Homo sapiens: one gene and its partners. The protein of the gene in region 2 purifies or fractionates together with the protein of the main gene of each other region. This does not show direct contact. Each region holds a gene or a part of one and is shown on either strand. Other genes may lie near its edges. The genes, in order: NEDD1, ZNRD2, RPUSD4 and TNKS2.

Evidence for each region.
Region 1: the proteins of ZNRD2 (region 2) and NEDD1 purify together in Homo sapiens (co-immunoprecipitation; 3 studies listed by BioGRID and IntAct, with this or other methods). This does not show direct contact.
Region 3: the proteins of ZNRD2 (region 2) and RPUSD4 purify together in Homo sapiens (co-immunoprecipitation; 3 studies listed by BioGRID and IntAct, with this or other methods). This does not show direct contact.
Region 4: the proteins of ZNRD2 (region 2) and TNKS2 purify together in Homo sapiens (co-immunoprecipitation; 3 studies listed by BioGRID and IntAct, with this or other methods). This does not show direct contact.

What each region holds. Positions count from the first base shown.
Region 1 is NC_000012.12:96,903,350-96,910,256, reverse strand, and holds the start of NEDD1 (protein NEDD1), read right to left. Parts: upstream 3,001-6,907; 5' UTR 2,957-3,000; intron 2,792-2,956; exon of another isoform or gene 2,654-2,791; 5' UTR 2,646-2,653; coding exon of another isoform or gene 2,633-2,645; 5' UTR 2,401-2,632; intron 506-2,400; coding exon of another isoform or gene 498-505; coding exon 362-497; intron 1-361. UniProt on the Homo sapiens protein: Required for mitosis progression. Promotes the nucleation of microtubules from the spindle.
Region 2 is NC_000011.10:65,565,731-65,572,413, reverse strand, and holds ZNRD2 (protein ZNRD2), read right to left. Parts: upstream 1,938-6,683; 5' UTR 1,923-1,937; coding exon 1,904-1,922; exon of another isoform or gene 1,811-1,903; coding exon 1,659-1,810; intron 1,529-1,658; coding exon 1,444-1,528; intron 1,024-1,443; coding exon 680-1,023; 3' UTR 526-679; downstream 1-525. UniProt on the Homo sapiens protein: Might play a role in mitosis. Antigenic molecule. Could be a centromere-associated protein. May induce anti-centromere antibodies.
Region 3 is NC_000011.10:126,208,624-126,215,592, forward strand, and holds the start of RPUSD4 (pseudouridylate synthase RPUSD4, mitochondrial), read right to left. Parts: upstream 3,028-6,969; 5' UTR 3,016-3,027; coding exon 2,827-3,015; intron 2,433-2,826; coding exon 2,267-2,432; intron 1,100-2,266; coding exon 898-1,099; exon of another isoform or gene 871-897; intron 1-870. UniProt on the Homo sapiens protein: Catalyzes uridine to pseudouridine isomerization (pseudouridylation) of different mitochondrial RNA substrates. Acts on position 1397 in 16S mitochondrial ribosomal RNA (16S mt-rRNA).
Region 4 is NC_000010.11:91,794,530-91,801,442, forward strand, and holds the start of TNKS2 (poly [ADP-ribose] polymerase tankyrase-2), read left to right. Parts: upstream 1-3,896; 5' UTR 3,897-4,161; coding exon 4,162-4,360; coding exon of another isoform or gene 4,361-4,423; intron 4,424-6,913. UniProt on the Homo sapiens protein: Poly-ADP-ribosyltransferase involved in various processes such as Wnt signaling pathway, telomere length and vesicle trafficking.

The DNA of each region.
Region 1 (6,907 bases), on a different chromosome or scaffold from region 2:
TCATTCCAAAACCTTTTGGAATTATTTCCACAACTACCAACCTTATTCCATTTGGTTCAATAAGAAATTTTTGATAACTAATTCTATGGTGTAGACAGAATATACTTTTTTTAATAGCAGTGTTTTCAAATGAAGTGGGTTGTAACTAAATTTTTTTTAAATGAACGCAACAGATAAAATCAGAGTGCATTCATATGATATATTGTTTTGTAAATTACTATTTTACGTTATCTATCCTTGGTAGCAATGCAAAACACATTACTCAGTATGAGGCACATGCAAAAGTTTCATTGACAGTGGTTGTTTAACCTAATAAGCGGTTTGTGTGTGTGTGTGTGTGTTTTTTTTTTTTAAAGGATACTATTGCTGCTCCAACATATTGAGCTGATTCCATGTGGTGATGTGTGTGGGTTGAATTTATCCACCAATGTCATAGATGAAGCATCCCATATTTTAATATCATCTCCTGATGAAGCAAATCTGAGGTTTTCCTGCATGACTGCGCCTACAAATAGTTTAAAACAATGTATTTTAAAAACATTTAAGAATAGACATACTCAAAAAAAGGTCAAAATCTAATCTAAAACAAGTGGCTCTAACTCATTCATTTTTGTTCCAAACAGTGCAGTCACCAAAGCAGTTGAAGTGATTTTCCTAAAACATAAGCCAGGTCGCATTCTCTTAGCTGACCCTTCCAATGGCTCCTCACAGTAATGATAATGAAATCCAGCCTCCTTAGCCTGCCTTACATGTCCTGGCCCCCATGTAACTCTCCTCTTTCTTTTCACTGGCCTTCTCTCTGCCTCATGCAAAGGCAAAGTCATTCTCACCTCAGTGTCTTTTCATTTGCTGCTCCCTGTGCCTAAGATGTTCTCCCCAGATTCCCATGGTCATCTCCTTCTCATCATTCAGGTCTTAGCTCAAATGTTTCCTCCTATGAAAGGCCTTTCCTGACCACCCTGGCTAACGCAGTCCCTTCCTTACCTGGTAAGGGACTTAGCAGTTTACCCTATATCCCAATACCTGATTTCATTTTTTTCATAGCACTTCCTAATATCTGAATTTTTTTTTTTTTTTTTTGAGACGGAGTTTCACTCTTGTTGTCCAGGCTGGAGTGCAATGGTGTGATCTCGGCTCACCACAACCTCCGCCTTCCAGGTTCAAGTGATTCTCCTGCCTCAGCCTCCCGAGTAGCTGGGATTACCGGCATGCACCACCACACCCGGCTAATTTTGTATTTTTAGTAGAGACGGGGTTTCTCCATGTTGGTCAGGCTGGTCTCGAACTCCTGACCTCAGGTGATCTGCCCGCCTCAGCCTCCCAAAGTGTTGGGACCACAGGCGTGAGCCACCGTGCCCAGCCACTATCTGAAATTTTTATTTGTTCTTATAATGTCTGTCTCCCCACACCAGAGTCTTGAAACATTCCTGGCACACAGCAGTTTCACAACAAATAACTACTAATAAGTAACTTCCTAATTTTTAAAAAAAGTATGATAAACTAGCATTTCTGCAGGTCAGAATCCAGTCACACCAGTTTTTCCAAAACTCTAAAATTAGCAATATGGTCAAATGAGACGCCACTAAGTCCCTATACCAATACTTGGACTACGATGCCTTCAATCATTTATTCAGAGCATACAGCTGAAACACGTAATTCTAACAAGGTGATTTCACAAACCAAGGAAGTCTAGAAAACAGAAGGCAAAGAAGCTGCTCTAGACAGGCACTTTAAAGAGCAACAGGTAGTAATGAACGATAAGTGAGAAAAAAAGATGCTCAAAAGTACATGGGAGAAAAGGAAAGGGAGAGGGCACAGAATTATACCTCCCACACCTTCCTAGTATGGAAAGTGCAAGACTACTGCACAGCATTAGTGATGTCACAGGCAGGTCCCCGAGTCACCAATACAACAGCACACCTACGTCTAGTATAAGCCATTTCAGAGGACAAGTTAAAGACAGAATTATAGAAACGTTTCATTCTCGAGACAAAAAGTTAATGTAATTCACTCATGTGCTTCCTTATGCTCCATTCATCCGATACAGTGCTACTAAAAGCCATTAAAGTCACCTGCAGAGATGTAACACAATGTTTGGATTTGGAGCCTTAAACATGTGTAACACGTGCCCCCTTGGTTCCCAAGTCAAGGAACAACTAATGAATTGCTGGAAAAGCGAGCTCTAAGCCCTGTAAACCACAACTGCAAGCTGTGTCTAACTGCATCGTAACCAGGCCTGGTGAGCTGCGGGGTGTAGTGGGTAGATCACTGAGGCCTGGGCTCAGAAAAACTGGGTTCAAACGACCTGCTCCAACTTAGGAAACACAACTCGCCGGGTGATTTAATGTTTGTTTTCGGCTCTTAAAGCGGGGCGGGGAAGAGGACCATCTGCCCACCTACCTCGGTCTTCTAAGAACTGAGCATTAAGGGAGAGACTTTACATGAGTCCCTCAAAGACGGTCCCGTCGAAAGCTAGCAGTCAGGACACAAGGCGGTAACGTCGGCCTGGGTTTAGGGACAGCGGCTACAGGAACCAATTCAACTACACCACTCAGCTGAAATGAAAGTTCTCCAACTTTCAATCACCAAAAATACACTTTACTTGCAGGACAACAGCTCAAGTGAGGCTAACCTGTAAAATGCATCCAAGTACCTGCCAAAAGAAAAGTACTTGAGGTTGACAAAAAAGGAGACAGACTTGTGGAGACGAGGCAAACTTTTCGGAGGCAGCACACCCCACAAGGCTCCGGGAGGTGCGCGACCCCGGCCCGCGCCTCCCCGGACACTTCCCAGCCCAGCGCGCCGCCGCGCCCCCGCCCAGCAACCGCTCCGGGCGCGCAAAGCCCAAGGACCGCCGCCCCGCCCTCTGAGGGGGACGGAGCGGGTCTTAGGATCGGGAGGGTGCGCGGACGCGGCGGGCGGGGGCCCGCTGACCTCAGGGCCTCCGGAACCTCACCTCTCCGCAGCAACACAACAGGGGGCCGCGGCCGGCTCCGCGCTGGGCTTCCGGCTCCCGCCTGGACTGTTAAACTTCGGCGGCCGGAAGTCCCGCCCCGAGTGACGTCACGGGGCGAGGCGCTGCGTGCGGCTGTGGCTTCTGGCCGGACAGAAGTCGGGGTACAGAGGGTCTGGTCAGGGCGGCGCTGGGCAGCCGCGGGGGAAGTTATCCCAGTGTCAGGGCGGGAACTGCGGGCCGGGGCGGCCCTCTCCACGCCCCAGCGACGGAGCTCCGGCCACTGCCAACTGCTTGTCATTCACTTGCTGTTTACTGTGTGCCAGGCACTGTGCTAGACTCTTGAGTGTACAGTGATGGTTTAGCCTGGGGATACAGGGGTACAGTGAATTCTCGTGGTCCTTGGCCTTGTGGAGCTTACAATGCACTATAGGAAGCTGACGTTATTAGATGCTTAAATGGAAAGTGAAACTATGATAATGAAAGGTATAAGATGCACGAAGACCCATAATAAGGGAAACTATTGTGGATGTGGATTTAGGAAAGGATTCCTACATGCGATTTACAAGCCAGGAAACGCGCTCAGGCTGAGAAATAACCCAAAGAGTAGGCGTCTGCACTAACCTACTTCAAAACCCATGATCTTTCTTTCGCATCATGCTGCGAGGTCCGGAACATCAAACATCATCTGTTTGGGAATTCTTTTGAAGGGGATACTTCAAGGTGGAAAAGGAAGTTGCTGAGCCGAGTTTTCAAGTGCCCCTTCCAAAGGTCCTTTTATAGCTCTACTGACAATTTTTGCTAAGAATATTTATCATAAATATAGAGCATTTCTTCTGCAAAAAGTGTTATTCTTTCATCACAACTACATGGGGTGTGTTTCTGAACTAGGTACATCAGCCCCAGTTATCTGCATTCATATTGCAGATAATTGGAAAATTCTAATAAGTGCATTTTTTCAGAGCAGAAATTGAAATCGTAGCCAAGTTACTGAGGTTCATGGGGGAGTGGCAAAAGGAGAAAGATAGCAAGCAGCAACTACCTTAATTGTACAGTCTGCAGTTCTTGAGGCTATGAAATCCAATTTGGGCAGGGAGGAGGCCCAGAAAGTTGGGAACTAAGAAAGTACGGTAAGGGAGTGGGGGCAGGGAGAATGGGAGCAAATGGAGAAAAGAAAACTTCAAACAAAAAGGGCAATTAATTAAATCTCTGAAAATTGAAGCCAGCAGGAAAATTGAGACTAGACTATATGAAAATATATATAATAATACATGTAATATAATATATACATATTATATGATATAATACTAGTTATACATATAAAAATAGATATTTATTGAACACTTTACTAAGCACTGTATTTGTGTATATAGACGTAATGTGTATGTATGCAATATATATATAATTTCATCTTTCTAAAAACACATGAAGTATGTGCTATTATTTGTCCCCATTTTACATATGAGGAAATAGAGGTTAAGTAACTTGTCCAAGGTTACAAGTTTAATAAATGGTAGATTCAGAAGTTAAACCTGGGACCATGAGACTGCAAAGACTGTCCCAGACCTTTATGCTATACAGTCAAGAGCCATAACACAGCGTATAGGGCCAAATGGAAACCTCCATTCCTCTGTCCTCACTGATGCTGCGGCCTCATCAAATCTTACTGGCCCTGAAACAGTCCTGTCATTTTTGTCCGTGCCTCTGTGCCTATGTATACACTGTTTCCTCAGTTCTGTATAATAGTTTAACGAACAATAGATGCCAAATGTTAGAAGCCTTGCTAATATATGAATTATATAAACATATACAGATTTCCAAAAGTAGCCATCACAACAAAGAATATTTCTAGAGACAAAGAGAAATATTTCATAATGATAAAATGGTAAATAACCACAAGCCATTATCAATTTTAAGTGTATAGGTGAACGTAAGAGAATTTTGAAATATATGAAGAATAAGTATCAAAGCTAAAGGAGGAAAAAAGCATACCCATAGTCATTGTTGGAGACTGACAGAATTTTCTCAGTAATTCATAGAACATCCAGATAAGAAAAACAAATCAGAAAAGATGTGGAAGATCTGTACACTTATCAACTATTTTAACTGACATTTATAGAACACTATAGCCAACTACTGCAGGATAAACATTCTTTTCAAATACACATGAAAATGGAGCATATATTGGGCTATAAAACAAGTCAATTGATTTTTAACAGAATAAATCTTACAGACAATACTCTCTGATCACAACAGTATTAAATATAAATAAAAAACAATAACACATCTAGAAAAGCCCCAAACGTGAAATAAAACAACCTTACTTCTAATAACCCATAGGTGAAGGAAAAAATCAAATCACAAATATTAATAATAACAGAAAATATTTGAACCGAGTGATAAGTAAAATACAATAAAAATTCATGGAAACAGCTAAATCAGTGCTTATATTATGAAATCAGTGTTTATATTCTGAAAAAAAGAAAAGTCCAAAATCAATGATCTATGCTCTCTCTTAAGAAACTTAGAGAACAAATTAAACACAAAGATTACAGTACAGAACAATGAAATTGAACAAAGATGAACAATAGAGAAAAATCAATGAAACCAAAAGCTGATTTTTGAAATGATTAATAAAATTGAGAAATCTCTAGCTAGACTTACCAATAAGAAAGAGAAAACACAAATTACCAATATCAAGATTGAAAGAGAAGCCATCAATACAAATCCAAAGGATATTTACAAAAATAAGGGAATAGGATAAACAACTCCATGTCAATAAATTTGGTCACAACTAAAACAAATGAATACCTTGAAAGACAAGTATTAAAACTGACACAAGAAGCAATAGATAATATGATAGCCCTATATGTACCATAAAAATTGAATTCAAAATTAAGAAAGCCATCTCACAAAGGAACCCCAGGATCAGATGGCTTTACTGTTGAATTCTATCAAACACATGAAGAAATAATTCAACATTTTAGGAAAACAGAAAAGAAGAGAATATTTGCTAAACCCATTTTTTAGAGGCAGTATTACTCTGATACTAAACCAGAAAAAGACATTATAAGAAATATCCATAATTCATATCCCTTATGCATGGAGACAAAATTATATAGATACACATATATATGCAAAGTAAATCCAGTAATTTATAAAAAGGATTATAATCAAGTGAGATTTCTTCGAGAAATCCAAGATTGGTTTAACACTCAAAAATCAATTAACATAATTCACCATATTAACAAAATGAGGGAGAAAGCCCATATAATTATATCAATAGATGAAGCAAAAACATTTTTTTTAAATTTAATATCTATCCATGATTTAAAATGCTTGACAAACTGAAAAAAACAAAGGAAGGAAACATCCTCAACTGGTTCAAGGGCGTCTACAAAAAGCCTACAGACAGCACCTTAGTTAATGATGAAAGACTGAATGTCTTCTCCTAAGATTAACACAAGAACACCCAGTCTTACTAGTAGTCCTATTCAACATTCTTCTGGAGGCCCTAGGCAGTGCAATAAGACAAGAAGATGAAAAGAAAGAGAAGAGGAAATAGGAAGAGGAGAAAGGAGGAGAAGGGAGAGGAGAAGAAGAAAACAAGTATACAGAGTGGAAGGGAAGAAGTAAAACTCTTTATTGCAGACAGAATGATTGTGTACTGTAAAATCATAAGGAATCCAGAAAAAAACTCCTAGAGCTATGTGAATTCAGCAAGTCCTATGCAAGGTCAATATACAAAAATAGAATTCTATAAACTAGCAATAAACAATCAGAAAAGTAAAAATTACAATTTCATTTCTAACAACATCCAAAAGTATGACATATTTACACATAAATGTACTAAAATATGTTCAATAATTGTGCATTGAAAACTACAAAACATTACTGAGAGAAGTTAAAGACCTAAATAATGAAGAGCTGTATCATGTTCATGAGATAGAAGAC
Region 2 (6,683 bases):
CTCAAGGGGAGATGGAAAAATGCGGCGGAGGGGGGAAAAGGCTGAAGGGGGCAGGCGTGGTTTCTTCACGGTTCTTTTTGCTACCCCGTCTCCCCGCCGCGCCCCGCCCCGCCCCCACACCCAAGGAAAATGATCTAACAGTGGAGTCAGGAGACTGGCAAGTCCACACTTGGTGCCTAACGTGCCACCTGACGCTGGGGTCACCACAAACTCCTGTCGGTGTCTGAGTACCTGGGGTGGGCATGAGATGGGATAGGCTGATAGGGTCAGGATGCTCAGGGGAAGGAGGGGAATCTATCAAGGGGATCGGAACACAAAACCTCACTTCCAGGTGGGGAATGGACACCAGATGGCGGAAGAGGCTGCAGAGGTGCTGCCAGAGACAAGGCTAGGGTCCACCCCTCTGGCTGCTACCTTTGAAAAGGCTATGGCTTCTTCCTTAGAAAAGGGGCATCACATAGTCCTCTACCTACTCCCTCATCCTGACTGGGGAAACTGAGAAGAAACAAGCTCAACTCATCTCAGGGCGTCAAGGAGAGCAGAGTGGAGAGGTGAAGAGGCCAAAAGCTGGAAAAAGGTGAGTGGAGCTGGGGCTGGCATGCACACTTGGAACCAGGAAAAAAACAAACCACACAGAGGAACAGCTGTTTTTCTAGAGGGTTTTTCTCAGGGGCTTCTCTTAGTGCTGTAGCTGCTGCAGGCTGCGCAGGGCCTCCGCACATGCGCGGATAAGGCCACACAGCTGGATGCTAGTCTCCAGGGAGGTGCTAGAGCCCAGTTCAGCAGAGGCCCAGGTCAGCTTCTGCAAGAGGGCTGTCTGTGTGCAGGCCATGACATCTGTATTTGGAGGCACAGCAGGAGCAGGTGGCCCCTGGGCTGCCTTGAGTCCTGCTGCAGCTCCCTCACAGTGCTCCGGACGAGGTACTGGGGGCTGGGGCGCAGGTCGAGAGCCCAGGGGGAGCTCTGAGGCTGAGGCCAGCTGGTGCTCCCGAGCTTGGGAGAGGGCAGCCTGGGCATTCAGAGCTAAAAAGAGGAGAAAGTGGGTGGAATGGTCAGGATGCCTGGCCCACCTCAGCCCTGAGCCATCTCCTTTTCTGCTCTGCTCTTTCTGTGCTTGAGGTGTTTTCCCTGTCCCTCTATAAGGCAACTCATCCACTTTCTACTTTGTATCACATTTATGCCCTAGCTTCAATTCTCCATCAGTACTGGGCCTGGTTGAGCTCAGACTCTCGCGCAGTGGCTGGCACACAGGAGGTGCTTGGTGCTCTTATTGAGTTAAGGGTCCTCTTTAGAGCCTAAAGGAGAAATAATTTTACTTCTACCCCACCCAGAGACTCCACTGTCACCTCTCAGCCCTACTGTTCTCGGGCCTCTATCACCACTTAACCACGCTTCCCCCCTAAGCATATCCGGCCCCTCTCCCGGATTATTTTTTACTCTTACCGGGATTATCTTTATCCACGTCTGAGTCGAGTTCCTGACAAGCCACGCAGTAGATTTTCCGCTGTTTGTCTTGGAGGAGGATCGTCTACGGACCAAAAAGCACACGGGGCCGGAATGAGACGCCGGCAATGGGGTCCAGAGGGGAGGGCCGGGGAAGGGCTGAGTGGCCTGGCCCGCGGACCCATCCCCGGTCACTCGCCCGAGTCTCGCCTCACCCCGCAGTCCGCACACGTCTCGCCCAGCATGCGGTAACCGCGCAGCAGATAGTCGCCCATGAGCCGGGAGATGCGATCTTGCCGCTCCCGTCGCGCCTGCAGCACCTTCGTCTCCGCCTCAGTCGGGGGCTCCCAGGAGAAGTCGTCGACTTCTGGGGAAGAGAGGCATAGGGACTGGGGGTCTTGCCGGAGTGGGCTGCCTCCCGTACCTCACAGCCACAAACCCCTGCCGCCCAGGTCCTCACCAGCTCCGTTCAGGGCCATGTTGCCGTTGTCACCGCCGGGCTCACAGGAAGTGACGTCAAAGCGGAGCGCCCTCCGCTGCGGCTCCGCCCGTTCCATAGCTGCCGCGGATCAGGGCGGACGTGACGCCTTAGCGTGGTCCTCAGACCTCGCTGTGCCCGGGGTGGGGCGTGTCGGCTGCTACCGAGAACCTGCTCGGGGGACGCGTCCGTCAACCGGAATCCAGGGGACAGAAGCTTCCGACGCGCGAGGCCTCGGGAGGAGCGTCTCCTTGGTAACTCTCCTCCGGTCGCAAGACCTGGAAGTGGCCTCAGGGGGTCGCCCTTCCTGTCCGTCGTGGATGAAGGGGACCACTTGGCTTCAGAAATCCCCGCTGGCCTCCGCCTCCCCTGGGGTTTCCCTTTCGGCGCAGGCGGGGCAGCGGCGTCATCACAACCATCGCCACCCCAGTAATCACAGCGAGCGGCCCTTTGCGCACGCGTGGAGCCTTCTCAGGCCTCAGTACTTCTCACTTCGCCCGGCAAGGCTGGCCAGGAGGGGTGCATTCTCCCTTTCCGCGTATTTCAAGACCACTCCCCTTCTGCATGCTCGGTGTCCCAGTCTGTCTCCTCGCTGCCTCCCGAGGCCTGGAACTGAAGCAAAGTTCGCCCCGAAGCCGACCGTTCTTTGAAGTTGAAATCCTCAAAAAGCCTGCAGACTGAATAGCGCTGTACTGGGCACGCGCATTGCGCTTCCAGCCGCCCTTGGGTGCTGCGTGCTGGGCCGGGTCGGGTTGGGGCCTTCCTACATACTCTTGCGACCATTAGGCTCTTCTTGGGTGAGTTGCAAGTTAAAATTACCAGGGCTCTCTGAACATGGACCTTGGTGCTTTTTTTCTCTCTCCCTCTTCCGTGTTCTTTTTCAAACGCATCTTCTCCCTTATTAGATTCAGAGAAGCCAGACAGGGCAGGCAGGGGTCCTCAGATGTGCAGTCTGCAGGGCCTGAGGTTGTACACCAGGGCAGTGGAAAAGCAGCTAGGACTTGGACTTTCACAGTTACATCGACATTCTCCTCTTCCGGATGGCACATGCCCCCTCAATCTGACCTGAAGTCCCTTCCTCCTGGCCCCCTCTTCCTTCCACGTAGAACCCCTGGAACTGTCATTCTTGCTGCCTCCTGCTTACGTGGAGAGCCCTGTGTCCCTTTCACATCTCCATCTACCAGTCAGGCTCTTGGGCAGCAGCGTACCTGACTTAGGGCCTGTACCACAAGTCGTTTCTATCAGGCTGAATAGAGCCACCGTTTTTTGTGTGTTTGTTTGGTTTGGTTTGTATTTTTTGTAGAGATGGGGTTTCGTCATGTTGCCCAGGCTGGTCTCCAACTCCTGGACTCAAGTGATCCTCACACCTCAGCCTCCCAAAGTGCTGGGATTACAGCGAAGAGCCACAGCACCTAGCCTGAGGCTGACTAGAGGAACTGTCTCTGAACCATCTCTTGGACTCCAGCCTGTATGCACAGACCCCCAGGTTATTACCGTCTCCAGCTCCCAGCCCTACCCTGAATTCCTCAGTGCGCCGACTATGTCACCATCATGGCCAATATCCACTCAACTGTCTATTCTGCCTCGCACCTACAAAGAGCCTTACATGAGTCCTCTCACTTAATCTCTCCAATTTACTCCTCATGACAACCTTACATATCCCCACATAAGCAGGAAACTGAATAATTATTTTAAAATACAGTGTCGTTCTTGTACTAAAAACCATCTGGCTGCCCGATACTGTGGCTCACGCCTGTAACCCCAGCACATTGGGAGGCCGAGGCGGGCAGATGTCTTGAGATCAGGAGTTCAAGACCAGCCTGGCCAACATAGTGAAACCCCTTCTCTACTAAAAATACAAAAATTAGCCAGGTGTGGTGGCGGGCGCCCGTAATCCCAGCTACTCGGGAGGCTGAACCAGGAGAATTGCTTGAACCGGGAGGCAGAAGTTGCAGTGAGCCGAGATCACACCACTGCACTCCAGCCTGGGCAACAGAGTGAGACTCTATCTAAAAAAAAAAAAAGCCATTTGGCATCTCCCATCACACTTAGACAAAAATCCAAAGTCCTTGTTATGGTCTCCAAGGTCCTATAAATCTGGTCCTTGACCCCCCAAATCCAGACAACACATAGAGAGATGCACACACATCTCCCATCCTTCCTGCATCCCTCTTCTCCCACTGCTCAAGAGGACTCTTGTCCCTTTTCTCCTCTCAGGGCCTCTCACCATCTTAAGTTCCACTGTAGGGTGGACAAGACGCAGAACTGGAATGAGGCAGGCCTGGGTTTGATCCTGGATCTATTTACTGTATCACCTGGAGTAGTTTACTTCATCGCTGTGGACTTCAATTTCTCATCTGTAAAACAGGGCCAGTAGACCAGGTGCTGTGGCTCACACCTATAATCTCAGCACTCTGGGAGGACATGCAGGAGGATTGCTTGAGACCAGCCTGGACAGCATAGTAAGAACCCATCTCTAAGAAATATATGTATTTTTTAAATTAGCTGGTGCAGTAGCATGCACTTGTAGTCCCAGCTACTCAGGAGGCTGAGTGGGAGGATTGCTCCCAGCCCAGGAGATCCAGGCTGCAGTGGGCCATGATCAGGCTTCTGCATTGCAACCTGGGTGACAGAGCGAGACCCTGACTCAAAATAAAAATGGGGCCACTTATGCCTATTTGTTGCTTGTTTGTTTTTTGAGATGGAGTCTCTGTCACCCAACCTGGAGTGAAGTGGCGCAATTCTCGGCTCACTGCCACCTCCACCTTCCAGGTTCAAGCAATTCTTGTGCCTCACCCACTGGAGTGGGATTACAGGCATGCGCCACCACAGCTGGCTAATTTTTTTTTTTTTTTTGAGACGGCATCTTGCTCTGTTGCCCAGGCTGGAGTGCAATGGTGCGATCTCGGCTCACTGCAAGCTCTGCCTCCTGGATTCACGCCATTCTCCTGCCTCAGCCTCCCAAGTAGCTGGGACTACAGGCACCTGCCACCACGCCCGATTAATTTTTTTTGCATTTTTAGTAGAGACAGGATTTCACTGTGTTAGCCACGATGGTCTCGATCTCCTGACCTCGTGATCTGCCCGTCTCGGCCTCCCAAAGTGCTGGGATTATAGGCATGAGCCACCGCGCCCAGCCAATTTTTTAAATTTTTATTTCTAGTAGAGACGGTGTTTCACCATGTTGGCCAGACTAGTCTCAAGCTCCCGACTTCAGGTGATCTGCCCACCTCAGCCTCCCAAAGTGGTAGGATTACAGGCCTGAGCCACCGCGCCAGCTTCAAAGATGTTTATCTAGGGAACAGCTATGGAAGATGGAGATAGTGTCTCCCTCCAGAGCAAAGGACAGCCATGCTTACTGGCTTTGAGTTTCCTAAGCTTAGGGTCCTCTCCCACAATGTAATTCGCTCTGTGTGCCCACACTTGCCTGAGCCCATCAGCATCACCCCCATGGGACTTAGGGTCAAAAGGAACTAACGGAAATATGCTGGTGCTCATGCTGTTTGCTGCACAGCGATCAAGTCCTTTGTCTCTGACCCAGGACTCTCCTGTATTCTGCCAGCATTCTTGAACCTGACGGGCTACCTTGGTAGCTTGCAAGTGGGTAAGATCTCAGATGCTTCACAGTCCTTGACATAGAAGGTGCTCACAGGTGTTGGTGGTAAAACCTATTCGCAGCAGTCACAGTGGACAGGCCAGTGTCTGTGGAGCAATGGGCTTGGGCTCTTTCACACCCTTCCCTTGCCGACAATATATCACACCTTCAGCCAGGCATGGTGGCTCACAACTTTAATCCCAGCACTTTGGGAGGTCAAGACTGGCAGATCACTTGAGGTCAGGAGTTCGAGACCAGCCTGGCCAACATAGTGAAACCCCATCTCTACTAAAAATACAAAAACTAGCTGGGCATGGTGGTGCGAGCCTGTAGTTCCAGCTACTCATGAGGCTGAGACGGGAATTGCTTGAACTGGGAGGCGGAGGTTGCAGTGAGTGGAGATCCTGCCACTGCACTCCAGCCTGGGCAACAGAGCATGGAGTCAGGGAAGAGAAAGGAGGGAAAGGAGGAGGGGGAGGGGGAGGGAAGGGAATCACAGTTTCATGTGAGCCAGTCCAAATTGGTCCCTCCTTGTGGCACTGATGACATGGCTGTAGTTAGGCTCTTTTCTGGGTGATAGAGCACCCCACAGCAGCTCAGTCATGCACAGCTCAATTACAGCTCCCCCTGGGCTGGCTGATTTGGTGGGGATGGTTCACATGGCAACAAGTGGCCTATGCCATGTTGCCTGGCCTCTGAAAAACGTAACTTATCATTTGTATTTTCACACAGGCACTGAAAAGGGGTCAGCTATTCTTTTTTTTTTTTTTTTTTTTTTGGTTTTCACTGCAATGTGAATCACCTTGACATTTCTGTGAAACAGGAAGTGGCTGGATGATACAACAATAAAAATAATCACACTCAACTTGGTGTGTGTGTTTTCTTTGGGCCAGGCACTGTGTTAAGAGCTCTTTATGAAGTATTTCGCTTATTCCTTAGGACAACACTGGCAGCTAGGTCTTATCATCATTCCCAATTTGCAAATGAGGAGGCTGAGGCCTGGAGTAGTGAGAGATGTATCCACAGTCACCCAGTTGGGAGTGGCAGGGCTGGGGCTCCCGGCTGGCAGCCAGTGTACCTCTTGAGCCTGAGCTCTTACCAGTAGATTTCTCCCGTGCTCAAAAGGCGGGGAAGAGTGGCAGGGCAGAAGGGCCCCCTGATTTATCA
Region 3 (6,969 bases), about 61 Mb from region 2:
TATAATGTAAATTGTACAATGTGATATATATATAGATATATATGTGTACATACATATGTACACATGCATATACTGCATACACCAGACACGCATATACTGCGTACACCAGACACGCATATTCTGCGTATGCCGGACACGCGTATACTGCGTACGCCGCACACGCGTATACTGTATACACTAGACATATATGTAAATGCGTTGAGTAAGAACCAGAGGAAAAAAAACCAAACTGATTACATGGGTTGTTACCTCAAGAGAAAACACTAGAATGGCAGAATGGGTGGATTCTCCAGGAGTTTTTCACATGATCTTTGTTGTTTGACTATTTTTAGCATGGGAATAAAATCATATATTACTTGTATAATTAATTAATTTTTTTTTCTTTAGAGACAGGATCTCACTCTGTCACCCAGGCTGGAGTGCAGTGGTGTGATCATAGCTCACTGTAACCTCAAACTCCTGGGCTCAAGTGATCCTCCCACCCTGGCCTCCCAAGTAGCTGGGACTACAGGTATGTGCCACTATACCGGACTAACTTCTTACTTTTTATAGAGAAAAGGTGTCACTATGTTGCCCAGGCTGTTCTCCGACTCTTGGCCTAAAGTGATCCTCCCACCTCTGCCTCTCAAAGTGCTGTGATTACAGGCGTGAGCCACCATGTCCACCCCATGCTTGTATAATTAATTTTTGATAATTTTGATGTATACCAGAATTAAGAACCACTGTTCTATCAGACTTAATATTCTAAGCACCAAAGCTGTTTCACATATTTTTTACAATCTCGCAGGTCATAGTGCAGTGCCTTCTATTAATGGGAGTTTCTGTTTTTAATGAATAAATAGGTGAAAGAAATGCCTCCACTTATACCACCTCTACTGCCATCAGCAGGCCTCATACCAGTACTTCTTCACCACCTGACGGGTTCTAAACAACTCTTGGACTTGATGTGCCATGTCCTTGTCCCAAGCCAACACCATTACACCTGTGGTTTCCTTGTCCAGCCGGTGGCACAGATGCAAGGGCTCTGCCTTGTGGCCATGAAGCATCTTTGCCAGGATAGGTAGTACATCAGTGATGCAGAGCTGGACCCCAGGGCCACCTAAGAAGGAAAAAGCCAAAGGTTTGAGCGGCCAGGAAAAGATCTCGCCAAAGAACTCTCCTTGGGAGAAAAGCCCTTAATGGATAAACTGTCAATATTTTCTAGAGCCTTACTACTGAAGTGTGGTCCAGAGACTAGCAACAATGGCATGTCTAGGGAGCTTATTAGAAGTGAATCTCAGGCTCTCAACCTAGACTACTCAGTCAGAATCTGCATTTTACAAGCTGCCCAAGTGATTCAGAAGCATATTAAAGTTTGAGAAACACCATTCTAGAGCATGTGGCTTCCTCTCAGACATACTTTGAAAAACCATGAGGCCTTCGAGAAGCATTAAATAAGAGTGATTAGGAGGATAGACTTCGGGGTTAGACATTCCTGGGGTTCTACTCTACTCTTCTTACTAGCCATTTTTTTGACCTTGGACACATTACTTCTCTTTCCAACTTTGCTTTCTCGTTATAAAATGTAAATATCTGGAAAACAACTTCATTGGGGAATGGAAAGGCAAAAAACTGTTGCGAAAATAAAGAGAGAAAAAAATTATACAAACACTTGGTGATGTGATTTAATTCCTTGTCTTTGTGAACAACTATCTCCGTATCTCCCCAAAAAGCATTACCTTCTTCTAGCTAAAATGGGCCTTTTCCCTCTTTCACAAATGCATTTTTTAAATCAATCTTTCCTGATTCACTTCAGCTGTCCCTGACAACTACATGCAACATCTGTTGAAAGACATTTGAAGGTCCACTAAATTCCAGTCACTCTGGGGTTGTATGTTACATATACTCCAACATACATACACACACACACACACACACACACACACACCCCCTTTTTTCTTATGTATCATTTTCTCATTCCCAGTTCTGATGGAAGATAACCTTTAGTCTAGAACCACACAGCCTTTGTATATCTCTACAGCGATCCCTGTAGTCTGCACACAGCGTATTCTACGAATTGCTTACTGTCAGATGTTTAGAAAGGGAGGACTGTCTTATTTATTTATTTCTGTGTTCTCGGTGGTTCCTTATATTGGACGGTAGTTTACAAAAGTTTAATTAATTTGAATGCAAGGCTTTAGAGTGCACCACAAGTAACGTCTCAGTTTTCCTCGGTTGTAGCAGAAAGCAGCTGCAGGTTCCTCCACCTTTCCCGCGTGGTCCTTACCATGCACAGGGAGACCGTAGGGCTTATTGATGACCACAAGGTTCTTGTCCTGGTGGAGAATTCCTCGGGTCAGTGCCTTAGCAAGCACGTTGGGGTGGACTCGCTGCAGCTGCCGTGTGAACCGCACTATTTCTTGCACTCTCCGCTGAACAGCGTTTGTGGACACCTAGGGAGAAAGAAGGAGCCGTGGGGAATGCCTGGTGCGGAAGCCGTGGAGAAGACCTTCCATAAAGGTCTGGGTGAGAATCTGAGTAGGGAATGACTATCTTTGCATCAGACCCGCGCCGCCTTCGACTAATTTGAGAGCAGAGATACCCATCTGTCTAACCTGCGTACCGACGCAGTGGTTAGGACTGAGCCTGACAGTAGCCAAAGATCCAGCTCACGGGAAAACACCGTACCCTTACTGACCCCTCCCCTCCGCCTTCTCCCCATTCTCCCACCTTGCGTCCGGGCTATTGACTCACACGCTTTCACTCAGAGGACCCTCCTACCTACTCCCCGTCTGGGAAACCAATGAGCGCACTGCCTCTAGGGAGTTCTGGTCCCTTTGGACTCACCGGCTCCTTCTTTGTGTCTTGTTCCCGTTTCTGGGCTCGGAGCTTCTCCGCTAATCTCTGGGCATTTATGGCCGTAGAGGCAGCGGCAGCGGCACAAAATGGCTTTGAGACGAGAGTGAAGAGACTCCCGCAACCTTGGCCGTTTCCCCGGATCCAGGGGCCCGACGCGCTCCACCTGGGCGCCGCCATCTTACAAGGAAGGGCGGGGCGAGCCAAGACCACGTGGAGAAGGGCGACTACAATGAGGCGGGAGTGGGTGGGCCCTGCAGGTCACGTGGTGCGGGGTGGGGCCTGGGCGAGTCACGTGGGGACGGTGCGCGCTCAGTGCGGCTGCGCCGGCCGGTAGCTGCAGCTGGAGCAGTGGCGTTTGGAGGAGACTCGGTGAGTGTGTAGGGAAGCCGGGCTGGGGCTGGGAAATGCCGGTGCCTCAACGGTTTAACGTTTTCTGCGTCCCCGGGATTTCCGTTCAAGAAGAGCACTGGTCTGAGAAACGTTTCTCCTTTTGGTACACGATCCCACTCAAAAACTCCTCCCCGCCCCCGCGCCCCCTTAGGAGCGATGTCCCATAAACGCTCGCCCCAGAGCCCTCCTAGGCACCGACGCCGTCCCTCTTAGCCACTGAATCTCCGGTGATCCGCCAGTCCCCTGCGGGACGCGTCGGGGACCCTCTTGATCGGATGCCCGGATCTCTGTAGTCTCTCCACCCTTCATCTTCCAACTCCCAGCCTCTTTGTTTCGCGTTGTAACCTGTACCCTTCTCCTAAGGATGACGGCCCCTTCCCTTATCCAGGGCCCCCAGCACCTATTTCCTACTTAGGAAGCACTGTGAGTGTTTTTTCTGCCCTTCCTCAAGAATTCATTTCTTGGGGGTCTCCTCCCTACCTTCCCTACTCCTCCTAAAGAAAAAGCTGAAAGAACGGAGCACAGACCTTCACTTTTCCTGTTTCCTTTATTTTTCCTCTCCATAGTTTGCAACCACACCATACCTCCTCTCACGAGATGCGATGTTGGGATTCCCTTGCCCGAACTGCAGGCGACTCCCTCTGATTTCACTCAGGGGTGGCTGGGAAGATAAACATCTGTTTGGGATGGTAGTGTTAAAAATAACTTGGGATATACCTGCCATTTGTTAAGAGGAAAGCTTATGCTGAGTTCAGAAAGAATGTCCTGAAAACTAATGGATCTGTGACGATAGAAGGAACAATTTTTTAAGACTGCTTGGAATGAAGGCTGCCTGAGGAGTTATTAGAGAATAGGTAGTTGAATTAGATTTGGGTTCTACACCTCCTAAAGGGTTTGGCAGAAGGGAGCCGTACCAACAAGAAACAAAGTTGATCAGGTGGAGCTACTCATAGAAGACTCAAGTTGAAGAGTTTGAACTAGAGGTGATACGTAGTGAGGAGTCTTTGAAGCTTTTCGAGTAGGGCAGAGAGACTCCTTGAAAGTGGAATTCTGGAAATGAATCTGGCAGTTGAATGCAGGACAGATGGGGAAGGAAAGGGTTTGATAGTGGGGAAGGAAAGGGTTTGATAGTAGGAAAACTAGTTACAATCTAGGTGGTCAGTGATGAGGTCTGGTCTTTTCCCCCTACACTGTAACTCCTTTGAGTTTGAATTAATTGAGTTATGCAGGTCAAGGCGTACTCTTGGCAGCTGCTGTTGATCTGTGAGTCCCTGGAAGAATTTTTTTTTTTAATCCACTCACCTGGCACATAGTAAACTCGATATCTGTTAGATGGCTGAAGTGCATCATAAATGTATGCTAGGTGTGTCTGAACATTTTGAATTGTCTTATTTCTGTCAATGTTTGGCCTGAAGAATGAAGGTAGAGGAAGATGTATTTGTAAAGTGGGAAAGAAGCAAGGCTTGTGTACGTTTCTCTTATAAGGCAGGTGTAAATGCAGATCCAGATACAAATGCAAAGATTTCCAAGGGAGATTGGGAAACATCTGTTTCTCCTGTTCCCCACCCACCCCCTGCAAATTTACCAGTAAGACAGAGGTCTATAAAAGTTGAGAAATTCCACCCTAAAAGAATTATTACCTTCCATGCTCCAGACCTAGGTTCTAATTTCACTTGAACATCACATATTACTTAGATACTTGAAGCTCAATTTTCCAAGGACCCTGAAGTTTTGACATCGGGACTTAAATTCATATCATTACATTAATTAAAAACTTGTTTTGGGTACAGGACTTTTATGGTTTTGTGTCGGGGATGGGAGAGGCTGTTTCTACCCTAACCTTATGGCATTCAAGAAACTACACCTGTTCTTGCAGAGTTGGCCTTCTGTGGCGGGAAACAAAATGAAGAACCAACTCAAATGTCATTGCTAGTGACACAGAGCTTATGCTCTAGGGTTTCAGGTTAACTCAAAGCACACACTTAGTGACTTAAGAATAAAAATATTGGTCCCTTTTTTCTGGAGAAGGAACTTTTAGGTTTGTCTTGTTGAAACTTTGTAGAGAAATTTAAAGAATTCAAAGTTTTTGTTTGGTATGACAGTGCAGCTTTAGCCAGTATGGGTACATAAGTTATGACATCCTTAATGTTTCTCCGGTGAGTCTAGGCACTTGGTGATTTAAAGTAGAGTTGTTCTCAGTATAAAGAATTTATGTGGCCGGGCGCGGTGGCCCACGCCTGTAATCCCAGCACTTTGGGAGGCTGAGGCGGGCAGATCACGAGGTCAGGAGATCGAGACCATCCTGGCTAACATGGTGAAACCCCCGTCTCTACTAAAAATACAAAAAAAAAATTAGCCAGGCGCGGTGGCAGGCGCCTGTAATCCCAGCTACTCGGGAGGCTGAGGCGGGAGAATGGCGTGAACCCGGGAGGCGGAGCTTGCAGTGAGCCGAGATCGCATCACTGCACTCCAGTCTGGGCAACACAGCAAGACTCCATCTCAAAAAAAAAAAAAAGAATTTATGCAAATGTCATGTCTTTTTTTTTTTTTTTTTTCCAATTTTCAAAGAGCAATAATCACCCCTCAGATAAACCTCATTGGCTGCAATACTGCCACTGCAAAAAACTCTTTTGTTTCTGTTTTTTTTTTTTGTTTTTTTTTTGTTTTTTTTTTTTTACCTCTATATTGCCTCCTCCCTGTTCCTCATTCAGCTGGTCCTTTTTTAGGCAGTTCACTTTTCCACTTCTGCGCCAATGTCACAGTCCATTTGTTGGGAACTCCTCTTGTCTAAATGTTTTCTTAGAACAAGGAAGGAAATTCTATTAGTGATTTCTTCATTCTTGCAGACTACGGCTCTGTTCAAACATGACTTATTTACATTGATTTTGATATATCATAATATGTGCCCCTAAAGTAACCATATAAAGAAGAACTTGATAGTTTCTTTTTAAAGATATTTCCTAGTCTATTCAGGAACAAAAAGGCTGCATTAGTATTTCGCAAATATAAACAAACAAGGACTAACTAATAAAGGAACTTGCGTTTATCACAAATTTAAGGTTAATTAGTGGTATAAAGTTAAGTTACGCCTCCTCAAACTGTGATTTGCTAGTTGCAGATTAACCAGCGATTCCATTTCCTTGAAGAGCAGGAAGTACTTGGACATTGTTTTATGGTTTTAGAGAGATTAAAGGAGGCAATTAGCAGGAACTCTTGGGAGGTGCCCTGGAAAGTACAGTCATTGGGAGCCAGGAGATGTGGGACTAGTTCCAGTTCAGCCGCTGCGTACTTGAACAAATAATTTGGGCTTCAGTTTTTTGTCATTTGAAAGATTTTTGCAACTCTGTTTCTAGTCTATGAAGATTTTCCACTGATACTGAAATACTTCTCTTTCAGCCCGAATTAGTGGGATTTATTTCAGATTTATCTTGAATACATTTAGCATTGATACTAAGAAACTGGATTCTGCTCTTGTCCCCAGAATTTAACTTTTTGCCACTGAGCTAATGTTTATGTTTGGAGGTTACTTCATTGAGTGGTGTTGGAATATACTTTTAAGATTTCTGGCCAGGCGCGGTGGCTTACGCCTGTAACCCTAGCACTTTGGGAGGCCGAGGTGGGCGGATCACGAGATCAGGAGATGGAGAGCATCCTGGCTAACACGGTGAAACCCTGTCTCTACTAAAAATACAAAAATTAGCTGGGCGTGGTGGCAGGCACCTGTAGTCCCAGCTACTCGGG
Region 4 (6,913 bases), on a different chromosome or scaffold from region 2:
TTTGGGAGGCTGAGGTGGGCACAACACTTGAGGTCACGAGTTCAAGACCAGACTGGCCAACATGGTGAAACCCCATCTCTACTAAAAATACAAAAATTAGCCAGTCATGCTGGCAGGTGCCTGTAATCCCAGCTTCTCGGGAGGCTGAGACACGAGAATCGCTTGAACCCGGGAGGCAGAGGTTGCAGGGAGCCGGGATCGTGCCATTGCACTCCATCCTGGGCGACAGAGTGAGACTCTATCTCAAAAAAACAAAAAACAACAACAACAAAAAACCCAAATGGCAAATAGACATGTGAAAAGGTTCTTGACATCATTGATCATCAGAGAAATGTAAAAAACATTTTCTTTGCTCATCCAAAACTACAGTGAGATATCATCTCATCTCAGCTAAACTGGCTTTTATCCAAAAGACAGGCAATAACAAATGCCAACAAGGATATGGAGAAAAGGGAACCCTTGTACACTTTTAGTGGGAATGTAAATTAGTACAACCCCTATGAAGAACAGTTTGAAGGTTCCTCAAAGAACTAAAAATAGAGTTGTCATATGATCCAGCAATCCCACTGCTAGGTATATACCCTAATGAAAGCAAATCAGTATATTGAGGAGATATCTGCACTCCCATGCTTATTGCAGCACTGTCCACAATAGCCAAAATTTGGAAACAACCTAAGTGTACATCAGCAGATGAATGGATAAAGAAAACATGGTGCATATACACAATGGAGTACTATTCAGCCATAAAAATGTATGAGAGCTTATCATTTGCAATAACATAGATGGAAATGGAGATCATTATGTTAAGTGAAATAAACCAGGCAGAAAAAGACAAACTTTTCATATTCTCACTTATGTGGGAGCTAAAAATTAAAACAATTGAACACATGGAGATAGTAGAATGATGGTTACCAGAGGCTGAGAAGTGAAGTGGGTGGGGGATGTTTAATGGGTACAAAAAATAATTAGAAAGAATGAATAAAACCTATTATTTGATAACACAACACAGTGACTATAGTCAATAATAATCTAATTGTACATTTAAAAATAACTAAAATAGTATAATTGATTGTAATGCAAAAGATAAATGTTTGAAATGACTGATACCCCATTTACCCTGATATGATTATTAGGCATTGAGTGATAGTATCAAAATATCTCATATACCCAATAAATATATACACCTGTGATGTACCCAAAAAATTAAAAATTCAAACAATTTTAAAAATTAAAAATAGATATTTTGTTGCTAAAAAATGCTAACAGTCATCTGAACCTTCAGCAACTTGTCATCTTTTTGCAGTTGGAGGGTCTTGCCGCAATGATATCGAGGGCTGCTAACTGATAATGGTTGCTGAAGGTTGGGGTGGCTGTAGCAATTTCTTAAGAGAAGCTAAAATGAAATTTGCCACATCGATTGACTGTTCCTTTCACAAAAGATTTCTCTGTAGCATACAATGCTGTTTGATAGCATTTTACCCACAGAGCTTTCAAAATTAGAGTCTATTTGGGTGTTGAAACTTAATGGCAAAACAAACAAAAAAATAGAGCCTATCTCTCAAGCTCTGCTCCTGCTTTATCACCTATGTTTAAGTAACATTCTAAATTCTTTGTTGTCATTTCAAAAATTTTTACAGCATCTTCACCAGGAGTAGGTTCCATCTGAAAAAAATTTTTTTTTGCTCCATAAGAAGTAACTCCTCATCCATTCAAGCTGGTTTTTCTGTTTGTTTTCAGAGACAGGGTCTCTGTCACCCAAGCTGTAGAGGAGTGCAGTGACATGATCACAGCTCACCATAGCCTCAAATTCCTAGATCCCTCACATGTGCAGTTCACAATAGGGTTTGCGCTCCTGTGAAAATCTAATGCTGCTGCTGATCTGACAGGAGGTGGAGCTCAGGCGGTAATGCTCACTCCCCGCCCATCCCCACCCTGCCTCCATCCCCCGCCCTGCACCTTCTCTGCTCACCTCACGCTGTGCGTCCTTGTTCCTTACAGGCTAGGGACCAGTACCGGTCCAAGGGCCGGGGGTTGGGGACCCCTGTTCTAGTTAACTTGCTGCAGCTCCTACATCAGTATTTGCTGCTTCACCTTACACTTCTATATTATGAAGACAGCTTCTTTCCTTAAACTTCATGAACCAACCTCTGCTAGCTTTTAACTTGTCTTCTGCAACTTCCTCAGGTCTCTCAGCCTTCACAAAATTGAAGGCAGTTAGGGCTTTGCTCTGGATTCAGCTTTGGCTTAAGGAAATCTTGTGGCTGGTTTGACCTTCTATCCAGACCACTCAAACGTTCTTCGTATCAGCAGTAAGTCTGTTTCACTTTCTTATCATTCATGTGTTCACTGGAGTAGCACTTTTAATTTCCTTCAAAAACTTCTCATTTGCATTCACAACTTGGCTGTTTGGTGCAAGGGGGCCTATCTCAGCTTTCAACATGCCTTCTGCACTAAGATGAATCATTTCTAGCTTTTGATTTAAAGTGAGAGATACGCAACTTTTCCTTTCACTTGAACACCTAGAAAACCATTGCAGAGTTCTTAATTGGCCTAATTTCAATATTATTGTGTTTAAGGGAACAGATAGGCCCCAGGAGAGGGAGAGAGATGGCAGAGTAGCCTGTCAGTGGGGCAGTCAGAACATACACATTTATTGATTGATTGCTGTCTTCTATGGGTGTGGTTTGTGGTGCCTCAAAACAATTACAACAGTGATTTCAACTTATCACTGATCATAGATCACCATAGCAGATTTATGGGAAGAAAAATGATAAACGCAATCATATTGGTAGTGTTCTAGTCCTAGGTTCGTTCATGCATGTTCATGTTATTGATAAGCACCATAACTTCAATTTCATATGTATAAAAATGCTCAAAAAAGTGTACATCCTCTTTTAGCACTGTAGTGAGTCAACATTCCCCAACAAAAACTGGATTTCCTGAAAAACAGGTTAAGGTAGGAGGTTGGGGGGGGGATGCTTTTCAGAATGGCAAAGGTCAACATGTATCATCTTCTGTAAGTAAAATGTATGTATAGGCATACCTTTCTTTCAGTTTAAGACAAGGGGGTGTAGTGGGGAATTATCGTGTAAAACTACACCAGTATCTTAAGCATGAAAATCAATTATATGCTTTTCTTTTGTTTGTTGGTCAAAGAAAAAGATTATAACTCAGAAAACTTTCTTGGAGATGCGTATGCTCAGTGTATCCAAACTTTAGGCATGTCAGGTACAATATTGATTTACAAAAAGTTCCTCTAATCAATCCTGAGCTAATAACTTACTGTGGAAAGAGTAATTGATCAGAGCCATCCCTCCAATTGGAGTCAACTTCCATGACTGTTCGGATTTCCTTTATTTTGGGGGCAGTTCATCCAAACTTCTATTAAACGGCAACTAGTTCACTTTTGAGAAGTGGTTTACAAGAAACAACAACAACAACAACAAAGCAGTTGCGGAGGAAAGAAAAGAGACAAAGTAAAAAAAACGGAAAAGAAATCTCCCAGGAGAAAGGGATGTGGAAGCTGAAAACACGGACAATTTCCACAGTAAGACTTCCAAAAGAATGTGCAAGATCCGAGCAAAACTTTCAAGGGCTCTTTTTCAGTGTAATGGTAGTGAGAAAGTTCAGCCTGGAAAGCCCAGGGCTTAAAACAACAACAACAAAAAACACAATATGCAGGATCGTTCGGCTTCAGCAGAACCCACCGCAAAGATGGCGGTGGGACGAAGCCCCTTCTCCCGCCGCCGAAGCCTCTCGCCTCACATTTCCCACAAACCCTTCGCGCCGCCTCGCTAGCCGAAACCTGCCCAGCCGGTGCCCGGCCACTGCGCACGCGCGGGACGACGTCACGTGCGCTCCCGGGGCTGGACGGAGCTGGCAGGAGGGGCCTTGCCAGCTTCCGCCGCCGCGTCGTTTCAGGACCCGGACGGCGGATTCGCGCTGCCTCCGCCGCCGCGGGGCAGCCGGGGGGCAGGGAGCCCAGCGAGGGGCGCGCGTGGGCGCGGCCATGGGACTGCGCCGGATCCGGTGACAGCAGGGAGCCAAGCGGCCCGGGCCCTGAGCGCGTCTTCTCCGGGGGGCCTCGCCCTCCTGCTCGCGGGGCCGGGGCTCCTGCTCCGGTTGCTGGCGCTGTTGCTGGCTGTGGCGGCGGCCAGGATCATGTCGGGTCGCCGCTGCGCCGGCGGGGGAGCGGCCTGCGCGAGCGCCGCGGCCGAGGCCGTGGAGCCGGCCGCCCGAGAGCTGTTCGAGGCGTGCCGCAACGGGGACGTGGAACGAGTCAAGAGGCTGGTGACGCCTGAGAAGGTGAACAGCCGCGACACGGCGGGCAGGAAATCCACCCCGCTGCACTTCGCCGCAGGTAACCGGGGCCAGCGTCCCCTCGCCTCGCTCCAGACCCCACCTGCGCAGCCGGGGCCCACAGGTCTGAAACCAGTGCTCCTCCGCCTCCCGACCTTTCTCCAGGACTCTGGTCCTGGTGATCTCGCTCTCTTCCAGTGGGGACTAAGGAGATTAGGGGTAGGGTGAGCGTGCCACACTCGCTGGAAGTTTTTTGTTTTGTCTTGGTTTGGTTTTTTTGCCAGGTGTTGGGGGTGGTTTGGGGTTTTGGCTTTGTTTTGTTTTACAGTATCAACAATACCTGTACCAACTTCCGGTCTTGTTACCCTAGAAGGCCTCTACACACAAGAAAGAGTAGGGGACGTAGTTGATAGACCTTATGATTTAAAAGGTCAGTTACCTCCAAAATTTTTCGTTCTTGCAAGTTCCATTTGGGTTAAGGTCTTGAAGGACTTTGTAAAATACAAGGATGTAATTTAGGAGGAGTAGCTTAATAGGACGTTGACACATTAGCGTTAATTGGTTTATCAGAATAGCCAATCATTACCAAGTTTCTGGAGTGACTAGAACGGGAAATAGGCAAGTTTGGGAGAACTGAAACCTGACTTAGGCTGGGTGCGGGAAGCCTTAGACACACACACATACAAGTTGGGCGGAAAGTGGTAGTATAAGAGAAAAGATAGTGCAAGTACTTTAGCTTGAATCTAGAATTTAAGTTGGGACTAACCTTGCTTCATTCTGAAATTTAGATCGTTTGAATTACATTATTTTAATATTTATTAGGTTCACTTTATGATTTAAGCATATTAAATTTAGTCGAAAAATTTAAAAGAGCCATAGATGGGATATTCAGCTTATTCCCATAAAGCATGCATGCTGTTCACTTGTAGGAAAGATGATGACTGTTTCTAACTTCAGGTGAGTCATGCGTGATTGAAAATGGGAGTACCTCCTCTTACCTCTGACAATCCTGGTTTTTTGTTTTGTGTATTTCATGATTGTTTAAAACAATTTTTTGAAAAATCGGGGAATACCTTTTAAAGTACTCCTGTTCTTTTGGGGCTAGATTGATGAAGAGAAAAGGAGCAGTGAGAAATATTTCCTCTTTCACAGATATTACTTTTACACTTTCTACCAATTGGAGATTTGTTCGCTTTAACCTGTTCCAGATTTTAAATGTAAATACTACCAGGAGGTATGCTTTTTTGATCAATTGCACCTTTGTTGGATTTCCATTGGGGAGTCTTTTAAAAAGAAGAAAGTTTAGGGAACCTAGGTGGGAGAACTAGAAACGGTTTGTGGGCAATGGAAAGAGAAGGAAGAATACTTAAGTCAAACACACCTAGTTAGCCTTTTTGCCCGAAATTTCGGTGGTAAGTGCTGCCGTTCTTCAGCTAATTTAGGTTGTCCTGTTTGACCATGTAGTCAACATTTAAACAACTCATTTGGCAAACTGTCACGATCAACTGATACATAAGCCAAAGGGTAGGGTTACTTAGATTCTGTTCACTTGATCTGTGGGATAAAAATAACCAAGAAAGATCTTAGTTGCTACCTTTCAAGAATTTGGTGTATTAGTGAGTTCATATCTGAAAATAGTAATATTTAGAGGTGTAAGATTATGTTATTAGATCCTCAGTGACCTTGTTCCTTCTCTGCCTTCCCACCTTCAGTTCTGTCCCAACGTTTCAAAGCATATTTTTTACATAGGTTTCATTTTGTTCAAGTTTGGAAGACTTAATATTTTGGAAACCAACCCACCCCTCACAACTTACCCAAATTATCAGGTATAGGTTATCAGATTAAGAGTTAAAGGTATAAAAAGGGAGTAATAAAAATTATGAAGTGGGGGTTCTTCATTCAACCAGAGCTTTTGAAGTCCTGCACTTCAATCATATAAGAAACTTTTTTAAAAATTGGGTTTGTAAATTTAATCTGAATTTTAGGTTCATCAGAGAGAAGCTTTTTAAGTGCATCCAGCTACCTTTTCACTTAATATATGGAGAATATACTTTATAATCTGTTGTAGGTAGTGAGTTATCAGTCATGTTAATGTGCCTGCAAGCATACTGTTGGAAGTTCAACACAGGTGGTGGTATTATGTAACTGCCTGATCAAGCAGTTTCTTGTGTTTGTACTTCAGTCATAGAGTGAGCTATTGGAGGTGATGGGGGACATCATTATTTTAAAATTTTTTTAGCTGATTAAAGTTTGGAGATTTTACTGGGGGAGGCATGTTTTTGTCTTTTTGTTTTGATTCCCAAGTAATATTAGGACTGAGAGATTCGTGCAGACCACAGAAAATGAAAATTAGTTTAGAAAACATTTGCTTTAATTTCATCCCCAAAAGTTAGTTCAATTAAAAGAATAATCCGTTGCTAGCACCAAGAGAGTTAAATTCTGTTAATGAAGAAGATAGTCAACATAAACAGGAATTTTCCTTCTACTAGGTGTTTTTTTATTACTGAACTAGATTGCATACTTTTCTTCTAGATAAATATTATTTAAGAAGTAATTCCTTAGGAGAAAAATGACTCTGTAAATTGTTTCCTTTTCAGTCCGCCTGCCACTGCCC